Homo sapiens: one gene and its partners. The protein of the gene in region 1 interacts with the protein of each later gene in a biochemical or structural test. Each region holds a gene or a part of one and is shown in the gene's direction. Other genes may lie near its edges.

Region 1 (7,023 bases):
GTGAAGGCTGCTGTGTCTGGGAGGCGTCTCTTCTGTGGGGTCAGGGGAGAGTCGTGGGGAAGGCTCTGGCTCCTAAGGTCCAGGGAGGTCTTAGGTGACCCACAGATATTACCACTGGACTGCTTCTCCTTCTGCTTCCCCAGCCCCCACCCCGGCTGAGTTTGTGGCCCCCCTGGGAGGCATAGCACTGAAGAGGGGTACTTGGTTCACTGATGGTTTGTTAACCCTGTCGGGTGGAGAATGTTCTGGGCCCGTTACTGTTATGTTCTGTGTCTGCCTGGGGTTACATTGCCTCAGCTTTCAATCCAGAGTTGTTCTCCTAGGAAGGTGTCAGGTAAAGGGTATTTCTTGAGGTTCTGGTGGGTGGTTTCCTGGTCTATCCCGGGGGGATGCACCTACAGGGTTAGTTTGGGAGGGAGGAACAAGTGGGGAGAGGGGAGCCCCCAGACTGGAAAGAGCCAGTGGCGGGCAGTGTAAAATGGATCTTCCCCCCTCATCTCTCTACCCTGATACTAATGTGGGCTGACCTGTCCATGGTTTCAGCCTGATCATGTGCAAGAAATAACACAGCAGCGACAAAAATAGGACAGAGTAAACAGCTCGCTGCTCTTCTGTCTGTGCTCTGACACAAAAGTGAGCTGGGATAAAATTAACAAAGCATCTGGAAAAAGTAAAGTAGGACCTGGATCACAACTTCACAATTTAAAATTGTAGAAGTTTATACTGTTTCTTTTACAACATACTCAGTGAGTCTGTGGCCTCCTGCAATGCCTTTGAAGTTAAAGCTTTGGCCAAGAATGCAACTTCCATTGATGATATGGAAGCATATCATGTCATATGACATGCCAGGAGCATGTCATATATGTGTTTATTTGTGTGAATATATATACATGTAACTTCAGATGGTATATATGCAGATGAATTTTGATAATTTAGGTATACTGTATTTTAAAACGAATGGAATGGTCCTTCTGGTTGAGACTAATGATTCTGGGGATGGAGAAGGTGCAGGAGATGAGGCTTTCTCATGCATGACCCCCTCTCCTCCTGGGCAGAGCACACCATGTACAGTCCCAGATTAGGATATTAATCCTGTGTACACAGCATATACAGCATGCCAAAGCAAAGCCTTCCAGGAATGCAGTGTGGTCCTTAGGGCAAAGACTATTTGAGTTACTCTCCTTCCTTGAACACCGAGGTGCTTAATAAATGTTTGTTGATTGACTTAGTGATATGCAGCAATCCCAAGTAGTCCTTTGATGGTTGGTTTTAAAAATAAAGTTACACTGGAGCTCAATAAATATTTGTTTAATGTATTTGGAGGATGTATTTGGGTTTTTTCCATGTGAAGAGCTGCCAAACTGGTTTGGTTTTACTGTATTCTCTATGAGAAATATGAAGTGGGTTCCCATAAAGTCCAAAAGTTTTGTGAAAAGTTGGGCCCATCCTGGCATATAGTAGGTACTCCATAAATATTTGTTGAATGAATGAAATCAGAGCCACATGGAAAATGATGTTCCCATGAAAAGCTCTGATTTCTATTCGGTACATTTAATGTCCTAGTAGCTGACATTTTGTAAGATGATATGTTTTATTGGCAACAGTCCTACAATTCAGTAAAGTCACTGGCTCATGGGAATGTGTCTTTGACAGTTTATTCATTAAGCAAATATTTCCTGACTCCTACTCTGTTCTGGGCCTGGGCTCAGTCCTGGGGATGCTGAGGAGGAGAGGTCTAAATTGTTGATCATCTGTCAACAAAGACTCATTGAGTGTCTCAAGCTCTGGCCACAAAATGAAGGACAAGACAGCAAGGGCTTCTTGGCCCATCTGGGAGGATAAGCTACCTGGTAGTCTTAGTGCTAGGTGATTTTTATTGGTTGCTAATTACATCTAATAATTGTTATTGATGGAAAGCTAATTTCCCTAATTATCAATGCATTTATTCTGGTGATTCTTTTATCATAGCAGAAGATGGCTGTGCCACCCACGTATGCCGATCTTGGCAAATCTGCCAGGGATGTCTTCACCAAGGGCTATGGTGAGTGTTGCAGAGAGGGGGTGCCTTTCAGCTCACAGACTGAGTTGGCATGTTTGAGACTTTACCGATAACTGTTTAGGAGACCTGGGTAGGTCAGCTGTTCTGAACTTTCACGTGAGGGAAAAAAGAAGCTTTCATTTGTGTGGCAATTGTAGCAACTTTGGTTGTGCACCCAGTTGGACAGGCTCCTGCATTGGTGCTGTCAAGTGGGTATTCTTGTTTTCTTTTCCAAGTGTGGAGCAGCCCTGTGGAAGCTGCTGCAGTGGAGCGCGGCTTCTATATTTAGCCTGTGCTTAGGCACATGCCCACGAGGCCCAGTAACTGTGTCTTTGCCAGCTGTCAGGTGTCTTCTTATCAGACCCTGCTGGGAGTGCAGGTGGGACCCAGGTGGGGGTGCCCATTCTGTCTGCTGCTGTTCCATGGCAGCTGAGAGCTCCCCCCACGAGCAGCAGCAGAGACTGGGTGCCCTCAGCCCCTGTGGCAGGAGTGTGCTTCTTTTTAAAAAAGCATCCTGAAGCAACCATGAGGGAGGCAGAGGTGCTGTTCTCTAGTTATTTAACCTATTGACAGTTGTCTTCTTCTTTCTTTAGGATTTGGCTTAATAAAGCTTGATTTGAAAACAAAATCTGAGAATGGATTGGTAAGTTGTCCAACCCACATGGAACATGAGTATTTATTTATTTTTATTTTATTTTATTTATTTATTTTTGAGATGGAGTTTTGCTCTTGTCGCCCAGGCTGGAGTACAATGGCGTGATCTCAGCTCACCACAACCTCCACTTCTTGGGTTCAAGCGATTCTCCTACCTCAGCCTACCGAGTAGCTGGGATTACAGGCACCCGCCACCATGCTCGGCTAATTTTGTATTTTTAATAGAGACGGGGTTTTTCCATGTTGGTCAGGCTGGTCTTGAACTCCCGACTTCAGGTGATCCGCCCACCTTGGCCTCCCAAAGTGCTGGAATTATAGGCATGAGCCACTGCGCCTGGCTTATTTTTATTTTTAAAAAAGATTTTAGATTCAGGGTGTACATGTGCAGGTTTGTTACATGGATGTATTGTGTAATGGTGAGGTTTGGGCTTCTAGTGTACCCATTACCCAAATAGTGACCATTGTATGGAACGTGGGAATTTGTTGTAGATCAACAAATAACTGTCGTGACCTGGCCCGCAAAGCCAAAAGAAGGTACTTTTTTTTTTTTATTCTGGCAGTTTTTGTGGTTTTCACATTCATTCCATTTTCTGCATGATGGGTGGTCCAGGGGAACCATGCCAGTAGGCCCCCAGTTCAGCAGCGGGTAATAGAGGAGAATGGGTCAGGTCTCAGTTTTAGTTTTCCTTGTGCTTCTTATTTTCAAATTCACCTGCATTCAACCACATAAGTGTTTTTAAAGTAATCTTAGTAGTCCCTTTGAAATTATGTGTGCAGTAATTGTTGGAAGAAAGAAGTTTTGGGTTTGAATTACCGCTGTGTCAGCTTTAGCTCAGTGCTTTTTCTCTGTACTGCCCTGGAGCCAGGATGGAAGGGAGATGCTTTCCTGTCCAGACTGAAGAGTTACAGGGAGGAAGGAAGCTGTCTGCTGACAACAAATTCCCCATAAGATTTCTTTACATAGCAGGCTCCTTTACTCCCATCTGTACTTTAAATATCTATTTGAATTGTAGAGTTAGCCTTGGCCCCCCCACATTCAGGGTCTTGCCTCTTGCAGAAAGGCAAGTATAGTGTTTAGGAGTGAAGTGAAGCCAAGTGAGTGCTATGGTGCAGGCTGTGACTCTTCTCTCTCCTTTGAAGGAATTTACAAGCTCAGGCTCAGCCAACACTGAGACCACCAAAGTGACGGGCAGTCTGGAAACCAAGTACAGATGGACTGAGTACGGCCTGACGTTTACAGAGAAATGGAATACCGACAATACACTAGGCACCGAGATTACTGTGGAAGATCAGGTAATGGCTGCTGTGAAAAGATGTGGATTTATTAATTCGCATCTGCCAGCCTGCCTTGTGACTAAATCTAGTGGCAAATTTCTTTTCTGTTCAGCTTGCACGTGGACTGAAGCTGACCTTCGATTCATCCTTCTCACCTAACACTGGGTAAGAGTTTCATCTGTTTTCTCCACAAGGATGTTCTCTGATGTTGCAGGTGGTGGAAGCCCTTTGTGACAAAATGTTTTGGGGGCTGACAGCACCTAAAATATGGTCTCCGAGACCTGGCGATTTAAGTCCTCTGGTTTTGATTTGGTCCCAGGGGTCGTATCCACATCTATGCACTAACAGACTATGCTATAATGAGCACTTCCTAATTCAGGACTGGTGTTTACCCAACAAACGATTTCTAAGTGCCACCTGTGCTTGGCCCTGTGCCCATCTGGAGATCTAAGGGTGCCCAGGCCATGATTGTTACCCGCCAAGGAGCTCACTTTCTAATAGAGGATTCAGACCAGTGTTTAGCCGTGTTTTGTAATAAGATTCTGCATTTTGTTAGTGTTCTCCTAGTTTCTGCCATGGAGGTTGCAGGATTTCTGTTCAGTAATAGCCATTTCATGTGAGTTAGGCTGCTGGTGATGTAAGTGGCTATGACCAAACGGGAGTGGGTGACATTTGGAAGCAGGGCCTAACTGGTCACTGTTGCCAGCCTCATTTCTTCAGGCATGGAAGTCCTTCTCCCAGCTTCCTGCTGCTTAGGGACACTGAGACCCTGTGGGTGTAACTGCAAGGTGGCTCCTGAGGCTGCACTTTCCCCAGGCCTTCTGGCCACAGATGTAATAGGCTTGTTAGTTCTTGACCATCACTTGGCATGATAGCATGGTAGTCTGCCTCAATTCCTGGGTGCTTTTCAAAGTGCCTAGAAGGAATTATTCCCTTTTAGAATACACCCTTGTTTTTTTCCACTCATATTGGTGGGTCTTCCAAACCTGGGGAAGATGTTTTATATAGTGATGTTAGGGTCAAGGGCATGTACTGAATTTCAGTTTTTAAAAATTGTGGGCCGGGCGTGGTGGCTCACGCCTGTAATCCCAACACTTTGGGAGGCTGAGGCAGGCAAATCACCTGAGGTCGGAAGTTTGAGACCAGCCTGACCAACGTGGAGAAACCCTGTCTCTACTAAACATAAAAATTAGCTGCGCCTGGTGGGCGCATGCCTGTAATCCCAGCTACTTGGGAGGCTGAGGCAGGAGAATCGCTTGAACCTGGGAGGCAGAGGTTGTGGTGAGCCAAGGTGGTGCCATTGCACTGCACCCTGGGCAAGAAGAGCGAAACTCCATCTCAAAAGAAAAAAAAAAAAAAGAGTCGGATGCAGTGACTCATGCCTGTGATCCCAGCACTTTGGGAGGCTGAGGTGGGTGGATTGCTTGAGGTCAGGAGTTTGAGACCAGCCTGGGCAACATGGCAAAACCCCATCTCTAATAAAAATACAAAAATTAGCCAGGCATGATGGTGCGTGCCTGTAGTCCCAGATACTTGGGATGCTGAGGCATGAGAATCGCTTGAACCCAGGAGACAGAGGTTGCAGTGAGCTGAGATCGCACCACTGCACTCCAGCCTGGGCTACAGAGAGAGACTCTGTCTCCAAAAAAAAAAAAAAATTGTGGTAAGATATACATATAAAACTTAACATCTTTAAGTGTGTAGTTAAATGGCACTATGAATTTTTCAGTTTTGCCATTCATTTTTTTTCTTTCTTCCTTTTTTCCTTTCCAACAGATATTTATTAGAGGGAGGATCTACCAAGTGCAGACCTGTGCTGGGTGTGCAGTGCACACAAGTGACTGGGCACACATGGTTCCTATCCTCTGGAGATGTCGTCTTATAGCTTGGCTATAGATGATCTGAAGAGACCATTGTTACGGGGCTGATTTACTCTCATTCCTCTTCGCTGCTGTAGTTTCTCCTGCAAGAGCACTGCCTTTTTGCAGTGCTGTGCACTCTCCCCCCAGGAACTCTGCCATGGTATCAGGGAGCGGTTATCTGGAAAGATCCTGGGATAGGATGAGAGGCTGGAGGATGTGCCCACATGCTTGAATTTGCTGCCTGGGACTTTGCCTGCTGCCCTGGGATAGCACACTTTGGAATTTGTAGGTGATTTCCTTCCCATGACCTTAGGGAGCTTTGCAGAGGTCTCCAGGCCATGCAGTATAAAACACAAAGGAAAGTTTTTTGGTTTTTTTTTTTTTTGGGTTGAGGGGGACGGAGTCTTGCTCTGTCGCCCAGGCTGGAGTGCAGTGGTGTGATCTCAGCTCACTGCAACCTCCTCCTCCCGGGTTCAAGTGATCCTTTTGCCTCAGCCTCCCAAGTAGCTGGGACTACAGACACGGGCCACCATGCCTGGCTAATTTTTGTATTTTTAGTGGAGACGGGGGTTTCACCGTATTGGCCAGGCTGGTCTTGAACTTCTGACCTCGTGATCCACCTGCCTCGGCCTCCCAAAGTGCTGGGCAGATTCATGTGTTTCTCCTGCCTCAGCCTCCCGAGTAGCCGGGATTACAGGAATGCACCACCACACCCAGCTAATTTTGTATTTTTAATAGAGACAGGGTCTCTCCATGTTGGTCAGGCTGGTCTTGAACTCCTGACCTTGGGTGATCTGCCCACCTCAGCCTCCCAAAGTGCCGGGTTTACAGGCGTGAGCCACTGCACCTGCCCCCCTTTTTTTTTTAATTTACTTTTTATTTCAAAATAATTTTATACTTAGAAAAAAATGTGGCAAAAATAGTATGCAGAGTTCTCCTGTGTTCTTCACCCAGCTCCTAATGTTAATGGTTTACGTAACTATAATGATCAGAATCAGCAAGTTAATGTTGATATCATATAGTTAATTAATCTGTTGTCACAATGACGTCTTTTTTCTGATCTGTGATCCAGTTCAGGTTCCTAAATTGCATCTAATTGTTAAGTCTTCTCTAATCTGGAATATTTTCTGACTCTGACACTTTTGAAAAAGAGTGGCCAATTATTTTGTTAAGATGTCCCTCAGTTTGGATTTG
Region 2 (7,987 bases), on another chromosome or scaffold:
CTTCTCTTATCTGAAACGCAAGGAACCTATAGCTTATCAAAGGTAAATGGACTGGACCAGAGTCGTGCAACTGACCTCAGAGGAGAGAAAGGAAACTTTCTGACTTCCAACCCCAGGCTCATTCCAGTAGCCTGCACATTCACCACGGGGGTGTATTTGAAGATTGATAGCTGGCGATGTGTTAGGAGGCTCAAAAGAGGTAGATTTAGGAGCAGAGAAAGAAAGTTCTGTGTCGGAGAATCAGCAAACCAACCTGAGAAACTCAACTCACTCCACAAAGGAATTGATTGAAAATTAGATGTGTTCAAAAATAACTTGAATAAACTCATGGATACTCCATCATAAGTTATTAAGGAAAATTCCTATTCTTCTGACACGCTTCCATGAACAACCAGGTCCTTCCAGTGCCAGAGAGAGAGTGTTGGGCTGGGCACACCCAGTGTGGAGCCAGTACATCTACTTTTATGAAAGTCATTTAGAAGCATCACTAAAGGAACTGAAAAACAATTGACCAATAATGACAGTACTCCAACACCTAGTTTTATCTTCTAATCTCTATCCATACATCTATGTAGTGTTTATATTATTATTATTTTTTGAGATGGAGTCTCACTCTTGTTGCACGATCTTGGCTCACTGCAACCTCCACCTCCCAGGTTCAAGTGATTCTCTTGCCTCAGCTTCCCGAGTAGCGGGGATTACAGGTGCCCGCCACCATGCCTGACTAATTTTTGTGTTTTTAGTAGAGATGGGGTTTCACCATGTTGGCCAGGCTGGTCTCGAACTCCTGATCTCAAGTGATTTGCCTGCCTCGGTCTCCCAAAGGGCTGGGATTATGGGTGTGAGACACCATGCCTGATCTACATTATTTATATCACAGCTCATGTACAAATTTATTTTCTTCTTCTTTTGGGCAAGGCAATTTTATGATTTATTTTGGTATGTCGGTATAATTATGTTATCAGTCATCTCAATGGCTACACAATATTGCAGTATTCTAACATGTCCTAGTCTACTAGGCCCCTATGTTTTGACATCTAAGTTATTTTCAGTATTTAGACAGTCAAAACAATGTTGAATACTTATCATTATCTTGTATGGGGATTTAAAAAATGCATGTCAGCAGGCTAAATATTCAAAAAATTACTGCTCCAAGAAAATAATCCAATTTTTAACTTAATATTTTGAAATAATTTCAAACTTACCAAAGAGTTGCAAGAATAAAGACCTCCTCCTACAGTTTGGTGAACAGCTCTTAACAAGAATAAGATTTGTAAGAGTCCTTCCCATGCCTTCAGCTTGTCCTGTTTTGATGTTTCTCATTGTTTGTGTGGAATTCACACAACTGGTGCTGTTACCACCATGGGCGTCTAGTCTGGATCAGTGGTCCTCAGTCTTTTTTGCACCAGGGACCAGTTTTGTAAAGATAGCTTTTCCACGGACAGAGGGAGGGGAGATAGTTTCGGGATGATTCAAGAGGATTACATTTATTGTGCACTTTATTTATATTACTATTACATTGTATTATATAATGAAATAATGGTATGACTCAGCATAATGTAGAATCAGTGGGAACCCTGAGCTTGTTTTCTTATAACTAGATGGTCCCATCTGGGGGTTATGGGAGACAGCGACAGATCATCAGGCATTAGATTCTTATAAGGAGTGCACAACCTCAATCCCTCGCATGTACAGTTCACAATAGGGTTTGCACTCCTATGAGAATCTAGTGCCACTGCTGATCCAACCGGAGGTGCAGCTCAGGCAGTAATGCGAGTGATGGGGAGCGGCTGTAAACACAGATGAAGCTTCACTGGCTCTCCAGCCACTCACCTCCTGCTGCGCAGCCTGGTTCCTAACAGGCCACGGACAGATACCAGCCCATGGCCCCAGGGCCGGGGATTCCCAGTCTAGATGGAGACCTAGACAAGGCGTGCGACAATAACACCGATTTTAGATCCATCATGACATTTACCCCATCCCCTGCAAAGCCAGATGGCTACCAAAATTAAATCTTAGTTTAGACACAGAATGTCCGTCTTCTGGTCCAAAACATCCTTGTCATAAGTTTCTTGGCTGGGCGCGGTGGCTCACACCTATAATCCCAGCACTTTGGGAGGCTGAGGCAGGTGGATCACGAGGTCGGGGGTTTGAGACCAGCCTGACCAACATGGTGAAACCCCGTCTCTACTAAAAATACAAAAAAATTAGCTGGGCGTGGTGGCGGGCACCTGTAATCTCAGCTACTCAGGAGGCTGAGGCAGGAGAATTGCTTGAACCTGGTGGAGGTTGCAGTGAGCCGAGATCACACCACTGCACTCTAGCCTGGGCGACAGAGCAAGACTCTGTCTCAAAAAAAAAAAAAAGAAAATAAAAAAAAAAAAAACAAGTTTCTTGCCCACTCTTCCTTTCTCTGAGTTTCCAGAGACATCACATCATTTCTTACCCAGCTGAGCAGAGTCCCAGCATGGCTCTCGTTCGAATACCCATCCTGCCACCTGCCCCAGTGAGAAGGGTTGGAGCAGCCCCTGTTCTCTGCCCCCGCCACCTCCATGACTCATGCATTCTGTGGGGGAGGCGCCCACTGCAGAAACAGCCAGGCTGGCTGGGAAAAGCCCTGCAGCAATTCCCCGTCCAGTTTCTCTGTGCCCACTTTGTCTCCGTGTTATCTAGGCCTGGATTTATTTCTCTTTTTTGAAAATGAAGGGCTTTGATGAAATGTTCACAGGATGTGAGGTCACCAAGATTTTTTTCCTTTTTTTCTGTTCTTTTCTTTTCCTCGAAGTGATCCCTTGACTAAAATCAAGGCTCCCATTGTCACCTTATCAGCCTGCCCATGCCTAATTCTGCATTCTCAGGCTTCCCCAGAATCTGTCCGAGGGAAACCAATCTCAATTCAGAAGGAACACAGAGGCCCCAGTTTCTAGGGCTGCAGGATATTGCTGGGTCTTAATCATTCGGGTATATTTCAGCAAAGCTCAGGGCCCCTGCTAATGATCTGCAAACCCTCTCCTCTCAGTCTCCCGTTGTTTAGCCCCTATTTATAAGTGAGTGCATGTGGTTGTTCACTTTCTGTTTCTGAGTTATTTCAGTTAGGATAATGGTCTCCAGTTTCATCCATGTTGCTCCAAAAGACAGACTTCATTGTTTTTTACGGCTTTGTCGTATTCCTCGGTGTATATGTGCATTTTCTTTATCCAGTCCTCCATTGATGGACACTTAGGTTAATTCTGTGCCTTTGCTATTGTGAATTGTGCTGTTGTGAATTGTGTGTGATAAACGTGTGAGTGCAGGTGTCTTTTTGATGTAATGATTTCTTTTTCTTTGAATAGATACTCAGTAGTGGGATTGCCGGGTCAAATGGATGTTCTATTTTTAGTTTGGGAAATCTCCATATTGTTTTCCATAGAGGTTCAGGATCCAGGATTTAAGTGCAACCATTCAGTGGAAAACCATCCTCTCAAGAGTTCAAATGAGAGTCCTCATGACCAGCACTCCCTGCTGAACGGCAATGCCCCACCCCCCAAAAAAGCCTCCATCCTCACCATCTTAGACCACATTGCAGGAAAGCAGCCCCATGCCCACCAGACAGGCCCACAGCTGCTGCTGCTCATGGGAGGTCTACCTCCCGTGCTCAGCAGGCAACCCACCCCAGTGCCCCTTTTCTACAATGACCATCAGCAGGGCTGCAGCTTCATAAAAATGTGAAAAACAGTTTGAAAGCAATGTGAAAAGCAGTTAGGTGCCTTTCAACTTCAAACTCAGCACTCATGGTTTGACAAATATGAGTATATTTAGGATCAGAATGTATGAAATCTGGCCTCTCCTGAATAGTCGGTCATCCCACAATTTCCTCTGCCAAACTTCTCTTCCCTCCCTGCGTTCTTTCTTTCACCTCTCTCTCATTTTTACAAGGTCTGGTCTCAGCCAGACATGAACCAATGATGATAGATGCTCCTGCTGAGCCCTGTGATGTGCCAGGGCCCTGACATGCGTGGCTTCTCTCTGATCCTCACGTGACCTGCAGATGCAAAAGCCAGAGCTCAGCATAGTTGAAAATCTTGATTGAGGTCATATCCCAGTTACTGGCACAGCCGGATTTAAACCTAAGACTTTCCCCTACACGACAGGGCTTTTATTTCTCAGTCATCTGAAAAGGTGTCAGCAAGGGAAATGGCTTGTCTATTTCCAGGGGCATTTTACAAGCAAATACTGAAAGGCTTCGGTGGGCTTAAGGGCTGATGGCTTTGATCGAATTTCAGGCATGTTGGCCCCAAGGCCCTGTGTATATTCCCTGGGCCCACTCAAGGGGATGCTGGAGCCGGAAAGTCCCCGGAGGCCACCTACTGCAGCCCTGCACTTTACAAAGAAGAGAAAGATTCTCCCTAAAATTACAGAACAGGGCCAAAGATGCCTACCGGAGCAAACCCCCATGGGGGCACCTCCTACCGCAGGTGAGCCCAAGGCTGGTCCTGCCTTCTCAGTGGCTACCCCCCTGAGCTCCCGCCACCACACAAAGTGTTCCAATCCTTGTGCATCCTCCAGTCCTTTTAACCTCTCATGTCCTGAGAGGCCAGAGCTACAGCCACAGATTCCAGAAGACACCCCACTCCCAGCCCCAACCTGCTGCCTTTAGAATTATAAACACTTCTTGTCATCACAGGGTCCTGAAAGTCCCTTTTAAGCCTGGGACACTAGGACTCTAAAGGAAGATGATTCTTAAGGTCCCATCCCACTTCCAAATTCCTGCGATTCAATGACATCACGGCTGTGAATAATCAGCCTGGCCCGAAGCCAGGATGGGCTGTGCTGCTTCCACCGTGAACTTCCTCCCCCTGCTTTATAAAAACAGGCCTGCCTCAGCTCCCTCATGGCCCTGTCCACTGAGCATCCTCCCGCCACACAGAAACCCGCCCAGCCGGGGCCACCGACCCCACCCCCTGCCTGGAAACTTAAAGGAGGCCGGAGCTGTGGGGAGCTCAGAGCTGAGATCCTACAGGAGTCCAGGGCTGGAGAGAAAACCTCTGCGAGGAAAGGGAAGGAGCAAGCCGTGGTAGGTCGGGTTTCTGTACCTTGGGGTCTGTCTCCTCTTCTTTCTCTTAAAAGTCTTTCCAGCAAGCTGAGCCAGTGAAGGAATGCTTTAACCAAGGGACCAACTTTGTAATTCAGGCAACTAGAGGATCCGCTAGAATCCACTCCAGAGGGGAGATGTCTGTTTGCATTTGCATGTGATTGGGATAGGCTGGAGTGTTTTGGAGGGGAGAGGCAGTCGGGGAAAGGGAGACTAGGGAGGTTGCATTCATTGGAGAAGCCTCTGCTGACAGAGTAAAGGGGAAAGTGAAAAGAACGATACAGAAAAGCCCCAAATAGCCTATGGGAGTACCTCAAGACGAGCAAGCAATAAAAGCAAAATCGGCTGCCTTGGGACACGTGCCTGTGACAGCTGGGAGGGCCCGCTGGGTCCCCTAGTTTCCTCCCTCCCCCGATGAACCCCCAGAAAGGAACTGAGGCTGTGGATGGGGCAGAGGGGGACTTACTTCCAGAGCACTATTTGCTAGGTGCTGGGAGAGAGAAGCAGGTGGCTTTCACACCCCACATTACCCCGTGGGATAGAGAAATGCCTCTGATCTCCCTAGGTGCCACCCCTACAAGTCTCCACAGGTCAGTTTGGCCCTCTGGCTTTTTGCCCAGGGTGCATCAGTCAAGTGTGCAGTCCTCCTTAAAGGACATTTTAATTACAGGGGAAAAAACTGACATTAATGTCTTTTATTCCTAAAGCACTCTGCAGGAAGCATGTGGGGTTCTCCAGATTTTCACTGTTATTATCTTTATTTTCTTAACCTCACAGGGAGGGAGAGAGGAAGGGAGGGAGGGAAGACGAAAACACGCCGAGGTCCCAGGTAACTAATGACAACTCAAGCTCAAAGAAGTGTGGTAACAAGGATGTGTTTGGTGGCCAATTGGGAATAATATGGTGGTCTCCTGTAGCTGCTTGATGACAGAAAAAATGTCGTGTGTGTGTGTATGCGTGTGCATTGCAGTCCCGGGAAGGGGTCTTGCAAATACCATTGTCAGGTGGAGTCCCCTCAAAGGTGACTTCCTAGCAGTACTTGCTGTGGCAAGAACGCTCATTCTGGGATCTAGACTCAATCCATGACGGTCAGCATGAGCTGCTGGGTGCGTGCTTCCTGTGCAGGCAGAGTCGGACTCCAGCACTGGCAGGGACACTGTGAGTATTGAGATATGAATAGCTCCATCCTGCCCACCCATTTATTCCACCTAAAATGTTCTCAAAGATGCAAGCCTCCAAGCTCTGGATCAAATGATAAAGCCCCAGATCAAAATCTCAGGAGCAAATGAAAGCTGCCCTTGTCTCCAAAATGCTCCTTCTCTGCCCGACTCCCCAAGACCAGCTTGGTTTATTTCACAATGACTCGCGTCGGATTCTCCCAGTGTCTGCGGCTCCCCCTGCTTCATCACAGGCCTGGGACAGTCCAGGCAGCCAGGGAATAGCTGGGAATAGCAGTTCCCCTTTGTTGGTTTTTGAGTTCACTGAGGCTTTGATTTCCCCCAGGGCCTGACGTTGCTGAGCAGAGCCAGCGGCCAGTAGATTTCAAAGGATTCCAAAAAACAGTCAGGCACTCCTTTGTGAACCCAAAAGTATCTGAGACAGGTCTGTCAATTTAGAAAGTTTATTTTGCCAATGTTAAGAACACACATGTGACACGGCCTCTGGAGATCCTGAGGACATATGTCCAAGGTGGCCAAGGTATGGCTTGGTTTCATACATTTCAGGGAGACATGAGACATTAATCAATGTATGTAAGATGTGCACCGGTTCGGTCTGGAAAGGCAGGACAACTCGAAGTAGGGGCTTCCAGGTCATAGGTAGATAAGAGAAGGCTTCATTCTTCTGAGTCTTTGTCAGCCTTTCACTGAATACACAATTTACATATGAGAGGGGGGCAGAGGAAGAGTCACTTATGCCTTAGTTGGCTCAGTGAATCTACTTTTTTTTTTGAGACGGAGTTTCACTCTTTTTGCCCAGGCTAGAGTGCAATGGCATGATCCCGGCTACTGCAACCTCCACCTCCCAGGTTCAAGTGATTCTCCTGCCTCAGCCTTCTGAGTAACTGGGATTACAGGCGCCTGCCACCACACCTGGTTAATTTTTGTATTTTTAGTAGAGACAGGGTTTCACCATGTTGGCCAGACTGGTCTTGAACTCGTGACCTCAGGTGATCCACCCACCTCGGCCCCCCGAAGTGCTGGGATTACAGGCATGAGCCAACATGCCTGGCCTGAATCTTCATTTTTACAAAAACAATAGGGCAGAGGAAGCAATCAGATATGCGTTTGTCTCAGGTGAGCAGAGGGATGACTTTGAGTTCTGTCCTTTGTCCTGTACCCATTTGCATTGCCAAGGTGAAGTTCAGCAGAACTGTTTTAGGGTAAAGATCTTGAAGTCCACAAGGAGTTTCCTTGTGGGTAAATTGTGAGAGAGGTATGTAGCCTTTTATCTTTGTAGCCGTCTTATGTAGGAATAAAATGGGAGGCAGGTTTGCCTCATGCAGTTCCCAGCTTGGCTTTTCCCTTTGGCTTAGTGATTTGGGGGTCTTGAGATTTATTTTCCTTTCATACCTTGGTAGTGTCACTTGAAGCCACCACGCCCGGCTAATTTTTATATTTTTAGTAGAGACAGGGTTTCACCATGTTGATCAGGCTGGTCTCGAACTCCTGACCTCGTGATCTGCCCTCCTCCTCCAAAGTGCTGGGATTACAGGCATGAGCCACCATGCCCGGCCAATTTTTCTTTTCTTTTTTTTTTTTTTTAAGATGGAGTCTCGCTTTTTCACCAGGCTGGGGTGCAGTGGCACAATCTTGGCTCACTGCAACCTCCACCTCCCAGGTTCAAGCGATTTTCCTGCCTCAGCCTCCCAAATAGCTTGGATTACAGGCGCCCGCCACCACACCCAGCTAAGTTTTC
Region 3 (6,934 bases), on another chromosome or scaffold:
TTATTTATCCAGAGCAGCCGCCTGCTGAGAAAATGGCTCTGTTTATTTCCAAGTGTGTCGTGTGAACCATGGGCTAAATATACCCACGCCACCGCCTCTCCAGCACCCGCCCTGGAACAGCACGCCCCATTTTGCTCATGCTGTCTCCGCAAAAGCAATCCTTAGAATCCACACCCCTTGGAAATACTACTCCCCTTCCCCAGGAAAAGAAGCTGAAATGGAAATGAAGGTTGTCATGACCAGGAACACATGAGTGGAAGCTGGGGCAGGTGAAATGAGAATGTTTCTATGGCACTGAAATGAGAATGTTCCCTCCACCCAGGAATGACTGTTTCTGGACAGTGAATGCTTTGTGCCCTTGTGGGGACAGCGCCTGTTTACTCCAACCCAGCCCCAGAGCTGAAAATTTCCTGTGGCTGCCAGCCGTCTACTTCAGGAAAGTTCCCATCAAGGGAGCCAGGCCTCTCCCATTTTGGCTGCAACCCCAGTGTCCCTGGTTTCTTGAGAGACATTTGGCCTCTTGGGATAACCAGGGCCTTCTCCTATGCTCTTCATAGTGTGGAACTCTCCCCCATCACAGATAAGCCTATTTTGTGACTCCACCTGGGTGTACTTGGGAGCAACAAAATCAAACCTCCTGTAAGAATATTTTTGTCTGCCAAGACCCGCAGAGGCTAGCTAGGATGGAGAGGGAGACAGGGAAGCATAGCCACGGCCCTAGTGCCCTCCTTTCCCCAGATCCTCCACCTCAACCCTGCTCCCACATTCCTTCTCCTGGAAATCCATCCTTTCAGCACTACTGACAGGACAGGTCCCTCCAGCCTCCAACTTCAGGGAAGTGTCCTGACATAGCAGCCCTCCCTTTGAAGCTAGGCAGTCTTGCAGTTTGATCCCGACTCTGCTATCTGTTTGCTGAGTGTTCCCTGCTTTAAATATCAGGCATCTTATTTGTGAAATGTGGCTCAAATCTACATCTCAGGATTCTGATGAAGATGAAATGGGATACCAATGCCTGACATGTAGTAGACATGCAATACATTTGTTAACTCATGTATTCTCATGTATTTACAGAGCAAGACACTGTTCTGAGCACTGGGTGTATAGGAACGAGACAGGACCTCTGCCCTCATCAAGACACATCTAGTATAGGCCGAGGGCAGTGGCTCACGCCTATAATCCCAGCACTTTGGGGCTGAAGAGGGCAGATCACTTGAGGTCAGGAGTTTGAGACCAGCCTGGTTAACATGGTGAAACCCCATCTCTACTAAAAATACAAAAATTAGCTAGGCGTGGTGGCAGGCGCTACTCGGGGGGCTGAGGCAGGAGAATGGCTTGAACCCGGGAGGCGGAGGTTGCAGTGAGCCAAGATTGCACCACTGCACTCCAGCCTAGGTGACAGAGCAAGTCTTCGTCTAAAAAAAAAAAAAGACACATCTAGTATGGAAGACACATCACAACAAAAACAAAGTACAGAATCTAGTTATGAGAAGTACAGCTTAATGGGGGAAAAATGTGGTGAGGTGGTGAGGCCGGGCATGGTGGCTCACGCCTGTAATCTCAGCACTTGGGAGGCTGAGGCAGAAGGATCCCTTGAGCCCAGGAGTTTGAGACCAGCCTAGGCAACAAAGTGAGACCCTGTCTCTACAAAAAATTTAGAAATATTAGCCAGGCATGGTGGTGTGTGCCTGTAGTGTGGCAGCTACTCAGGAGGCTGGGGCAGGAGGATCATCTGAGCCCAGGAGGTCAAGGCTGCAGTGAGCCATGATTGCGCCACTACAGTCTAACCTGAGTAACAGAGTGAGACACTGTCACAAAAATTTAAAAATTAAAAAATAAAGCACTGAGAAGAAAAGCTGGCATGGTGGTCATTCTGTGTAGTGTAGTTCCTGTAATCAGGAGGCTGAGGCAGGAAGATTGCTTGAGTCCAGGAGTTCAAAGTCAGTCTGGGCACATCTTTTAAAAACAAGAAAAAAAAAATGGTGGCTGGGCATGGTGGCTCATGCCTGTAATCCCAGCACTTTGGGAGGCCGAGGTGAGCAGATCACCTGAGGTCAGGAGTTTGAAACCAGCCTGACCCAACGTGGAGAAACCCCGTCTCTACTAAAAATACAAAATTAGCCAGGTGTGGTGGCACGCGCCTGTAATCCCAGCTACTTGGGAGGCTGAGGCAGGAGAATCGCTTGAACCTGGGAGGCGGAGGTTGCAGTGAGCTGAGATCGCGCCATTGTACTCCAGCCTGGGCAACAAGGGTAAAACTCTGTCTCCAAAAAAAAAAAAAAAAAGGCCAGATATGGTGGCTCGTGCCTGTAATCCCAGCACTTTGGGAGGCCGTGGGCGGATCACTTGAGGTCAGGAGTTTGAGACCAGCCTGGCCAATATGGCAAAACCTTATCTCTACTAAAAATATAAAAATTAGCTGGGCATGGTGGCACATGTCTGTAATCCCAGCTACTCAGGAGAATCGCTTGTACCCAGGAAGCAAAGGTTGCTGTGAGCCCAGTTTGTGCCACTGCACTCCAGCCTGGGGGACAGAATAAAACTGTGTCTCAAAAAAAAAAAAAACTGAGAAGAAAAATCAAGGAAGGTAAGGGGACAGGCAGAGAGAGACGGGGGTGGTGTACTGTTTTAGACAAGGCAGTCAGGGAAGGCCTCCCCTAGGAGGTGACATTTGAGGGGAGTCATGGTTGTGAAATGAGGGAGTGAGGCAGGCGACGACCTGGGGTCAGGTGCTCCAGGCAAGCAGGAACAGCAGACTCCTGCGGCAGGAGACGTTGGAGGAACAGCAAGGAGGCCAGTGGGACTGGAGTGAAGTTCAGGGGACAGGGGTGGGGAGGAGGCCAGAAAGTGTTGGAGCCAGATCCCACTAGACCTTGCTGGCCAGAGTAAGGAGTGGGGACTTTATTTCAGGTGTGATGGAAGCCCTGGGAAGGTTGAGAACTTGGAGTGACTGAATGGAGTGTGCTTCTGCAAGGGCTGAGATTCATGGGTCACTGCTCTCTACTGCCTTAATGTTGAGGATTCCTTCAGTCAAATTAGCAGCTCAGTGCACATGGCATTTTGCTAGGTACCAGGGATACAAAAATAAATGATGCTGCCCTTCTAAGTGCAGGAGAATGCTGCTGGAGGGCTTCCAGTGTTCTTAGAAAGCTCTGTGTGGAGCATGGACTGAGGGGGTTGTCAAGACTGGAAGTGGGCCACGGCAGGGGTCACAAGTGAGCAAATTGATAGGTGAGACCTGAGGCCAACTGGAGATGGCATGCCTGTCTTGAGGGAGCAGCCACTCGGCCATTTGGGACTGGTTGGAAATGTAGGCCCAGTGTGGCAGAGGTCTTGGTAGAGAGGCAAGAACCAGCCAGTAACTCATTCATTTTACACACACACACACACACACACACACACACGGTACTATGGTACTTCCTTTTTTTTTTTTGAACGGAGTCTCTGTCACCCAGACTGGAGTGCTGTGGTGCGATTTCTGCTCACTGCAACCTCCGTCTCCCGGGTTCAAACAATTCTCGTGCCTCAGCCTCCTGAGTAACTGGGATTACAGGTGCGTGCCACCACACCCGGCTAATTTTTGTATTTTTAGTAGAGACAGGGTTTCACCATGTTGGCCAGGCTGGTCTCGAACTCCTGACCTCAGGCAATCCACCCACCTCAGCCTCCCAAAGTGCTGGGATTATAGGCATGAGCCACCGCACCCAGCCTGGAACTTACTTCTTTCTTACATATTTCTAGGTGCCAGATGCCAGTTTTAGATTCTGGCTCCACCACTGACACAGCTGGGTGACCTTGATCCAGTCCCTGGACCCTCAGAGGCACAGCTTCTTGGCCTGTAAATGGGGAGAGACAGCCTGCATTGCAGAATTGTTGGGAGGATTAAAGGACAAATTGGGTACTACGCTTACTCATAAAAGTTATGTTCTAAGCGTCCTTCTCCCTGCCCCACAGGCTGCTGCACCCTGGGCTGGGTAATTTAGCCCACAGCTCCTCCTTCCCCCTGTCATGTGCTTCCCTTCTGACTTAGATTCAGGGCAGAGGGCTGTTGATCACAACCTCCTGGGCCCAGAGTCACACCCCCTGCAGTGGAGGATGTCCGGGACAAGGCCTCACAGACCCCGTGATGGAGGCCTGTCAGTCCTGCATCATTGTTACCCTCTCTCCTCTGCCCTGCTCTTCTTGTCACCAACCTGCCCACCAGAGGCTCCCTCCAGAGGGAGGAGCCTCTGGCTGAAGTCCCAGGACCCATTCTACCCCTGAATTGGCCTCAAATGACCCTGGGGATTTAGCCCTGGGCTTCCTTATCCCTCCCTCTGGTGCAGCAGTAGAAAATCTGAGGCCTAGTGGCTCCACACTCCACACTACCCTCAGACTCAACTCTAGGCTCCTTGCGGCTTCCAGGCCACGTATGGTCTGGCTCTTGCTCACCCCTGCACCATCATCTCCCCCATGCCCTCCTCTCCTGCACTCTGCTCCAGCCACCTGGCTTCCATCAGTTCCCTGACCCTGCCCATCTCGTTCCCACCTTGGATTCTGGAGTAAGTGCTACTTCTTGACTTACCTCAGACAGGGCACTTTCCTCCTCTCTACCTGTTTCTCAGCAGTAACATGGTTTGATTATCACCAATGGAGGGTCAAGAAAGAGGACCACCCTTAGCCCTTTACCTGGCCCAGAGTGGGCACAGATGGCTACAGTTTTTCACATCACCAAGGCCATAGCATGCAGATGGCCCCTTTCCCCACCCACCTACATCACTCTCTGAGGACTAAAACTGCACCTTCCTTCTCTCTCCCTGCAGGATACTTTTGTGGAACTCTATGGGAACAATGCAGCAGCCGAGAGCCGAAAGGGCCAGGAACGCTTCAACCGCTGGTTCCTGACGGGCATGACTGTGGCCGGCGTGGTTCTGCTGGGCTCACTCTTCAGTCGGAAATGACCAGACACTGACCATCCACTCTACCCTCCCACCCCCTTCTCTGCTCCACCACATCCTCCGTCCAGCCGCCATTGCCACCAGGAGAACCACTACATGCAGCCCATGCCCACCTGCCCATCACAGGGTTGGGCCCAGATCTGGTCCCTTGCAGCTAGTTTTCTAGAATTTATCACACTTCTGTGAGACCCCCACACCTCAGTTCCCTTGGCCTCAGAATTCACAAAATTTCCACAAAATCTGTCCAAAGGAGGCTGGCAGGTATGGAAGGGTTTGTGGCTGGGGGCAGGAGGGCCCTACCTGATTGGTGCAACCCTTACCCCTTAGCCTCCCTGAAAATGTTTTTCTGCCAGGGAGCTTGAAAGTTTTCAGAACCTCTTCCCCAGAAAGGAGACTAGATTGCCTTTGTTTTGATGTTTGTGGCCTCAGAATTGATCATTTTCCCCCCACTCTCCCCACACTAACCTGGGTTCCCTTTCCTTCCATCCCTACCCCCTAAGAGCCATTTAGGGGCCACTTTTGACTAGGGATTCAGGCTGCTTGGGATAAAGATGCAAGGACCAGGACTCCCTCCTCACCTCTGGACTGGCTAGAGTCCTCACTCCCAGTCCAAATGTCCTCCAGAAGCCTCTGGCTAGAGGCCAGCCCCACCCAGGAGGGAGGGGGCTATAGCTACAGGAAGCACCCCATGCCAAAGCTAGGGTGGCCCTTGCAGTTCAGCACCACCCTAGTCCCTTCCCCTCCCTGGCTCCCATGACCATACTGAGGGACCAACTGGGCCCAAGACAGATGCCCCAGAGCTGTTTATGGCCTCAGCTGCCTCACTTCCTACAAGAGCAGCCTGTGGCATCTTTGCCTTGGGCTGCTCCTCATGGTGGGTTCAGGGGACTCAGCCCTGAGGTGAAAGGGAGCTATCAGGAACAGCTATGGGAGCCCCAGGGTCTTCCCTACCTCAGGCAGGAAGGGCAGGAAGGAGAGCCTGCTGCATGGGGTGGGGTAGGGCTGACTAGAAGGGCCAGTCCTGCCTGGCCAGGCAGATCTGTGCCCCATGCCTGTCCAGCCTGGGCAGCCAGGCTGCCAAGGCCAGAGTGGCCTGGCCAGGAGCTCTTCAGGCCTCCCTCTCTCTTCTGCTCCACCCTTGGCCTGTCTCATCCCCAGGGGTCCCAGCCACCCCGGGCTCTCTGCTGTACATATTTGAGACTAGTTTTTATTCCTTGTGAAGATGATATACTATTTTTGTTAAGCGTGTCTGTATTTATGTGTGAGGAGCTGCTGGCTTGCAGTGCGCGTGCACGTGGAGAGCTGGTGCCCGGAGATTGGACGGCCTGATGCTCCCTCCCCTGCCCTGGTCCAGGGAAGCTGGCCGAGGGTCCTGGCTCCTGAGGGGCATCTGCCCCTCCCCCAACCCCCACCCCACACTTGTTCCAGCTCTTTGAAATAGTCTGTGTGAAGGTGAAAGTGCAGTTCAGTAATAAACTGTGTTTACTCAGTGAACAAAGAGCCTGGGCTCTTGTGTGCTCCGGGATGGGGAAAGGAGGGGCCGCTGGAGAGCTGGGTACTGGTCCTGGCTCTGCTGCCCTCAGGGGAGGGCCTTGGACAAGTCCTTCCTTCCTTCTGGGCCTGAATTTATCCACCTGTACGGTGACAGGGTTTTACTGGGTACATGCTGTGTGCTGGGCACTGGGGCTGCATGTGAACAGGACAGACACAGTCTCTGCCCTCAGGAGCTGACATTCTAGTGGGAGACACAGCCACTTGGCAAGTGTTTACTGAGCTCTGCTCTACACAGACATAGTCCTGGGCACTGGGGACTTCTTCAAACAAAACCTTTGCCTTTACAAGCATTCATTCTAGTGGAAGAGACAGACATAAGCACGGCTCTAGCTGCTGTAGGGTGTGGGGGAAAGGTGTGATGCCTTTCCTCACCCATCAGAAGGTTCTGTGACTGACATTCCTATAACAAAAGAAAAACAAAGTGGCAGTTCACACCCTGTAATCTC

What was found.
Region 2: the proteins of VDAC1 (region 1) and PLAT form a complex in vitro, tested with the Homo sapiens proteins (one study listed by BioGRID).
Region 3: the proteins of VDAC1 (region 1) and BCL2L1 form a complex in vitro, tested with the Homo sapiens proteins (4 studies listed by BioGRID).

What each region holds. Positions count from the first base shown.
Region 1 is NC_000005.10:133,987,964-133,994,986, reverse strand, and holds part of VDAC1 (non-selective voltage-gated ion channel VDAC1), read left to right. Parts: intron 1-1,968; 5' UTR 1,969-1,974; coding exon 1,975-2,041; intron 2,042-2,631; coding exon 2,632-2,681; intron 2,682-3,832; coding exon 3,833-3,985; intron 3,986-4,079; coding exon 4,080-4,132; intron 4,133-5,743; coding exon of another isoform or gene 5,744-5,852; exon of another isoform or gene 5,853-7,023. UniProt on the Homo sapiens protein: Non-selective voltage-gated ion channel that mediates the transport of anions and cations through the mitochondrion outer membrane and plasma membrane.
Region 2 is NC_000008.11:42,204,560-42,212,546, reverse strand, and holds the start of PLAT (tissue-type plasminogen activator isoform 1 preproprotein), read left to right. Parts: upstream 1-4,981; 5' UTR 4,982-5,053; intron 5,054-7,987. UniProt on the Homo sapiens protein: Converts the abundant, but inactive, zymogen plasminogen to plasmin by hydrolyzing a single Arg-Val bond in plasminogen.
Region 3 is NC_000020.11:31,663,952-31,670,885, reverse strand, and holds the end of BCL2L1 (bcl-2-like protein 1), read left to right. Parts: intron 1-3,738; exon of another isoform or gene 3,739-3,895; intron 3,896-4,799; coding exon 4,800-4,937; 3' UTR 4,938-6,428; downstream 6,429-6,934. UniProt on the Homo sapiens protein: Potent inhibitor of cell death. Inhibits activation of caspases. Appears to regulate cell death by blocking the voltage-dependent anion channel (VDAC) by binding to it and preventing the release of the caspase activator, CYC1, from the mitochondrial membrane.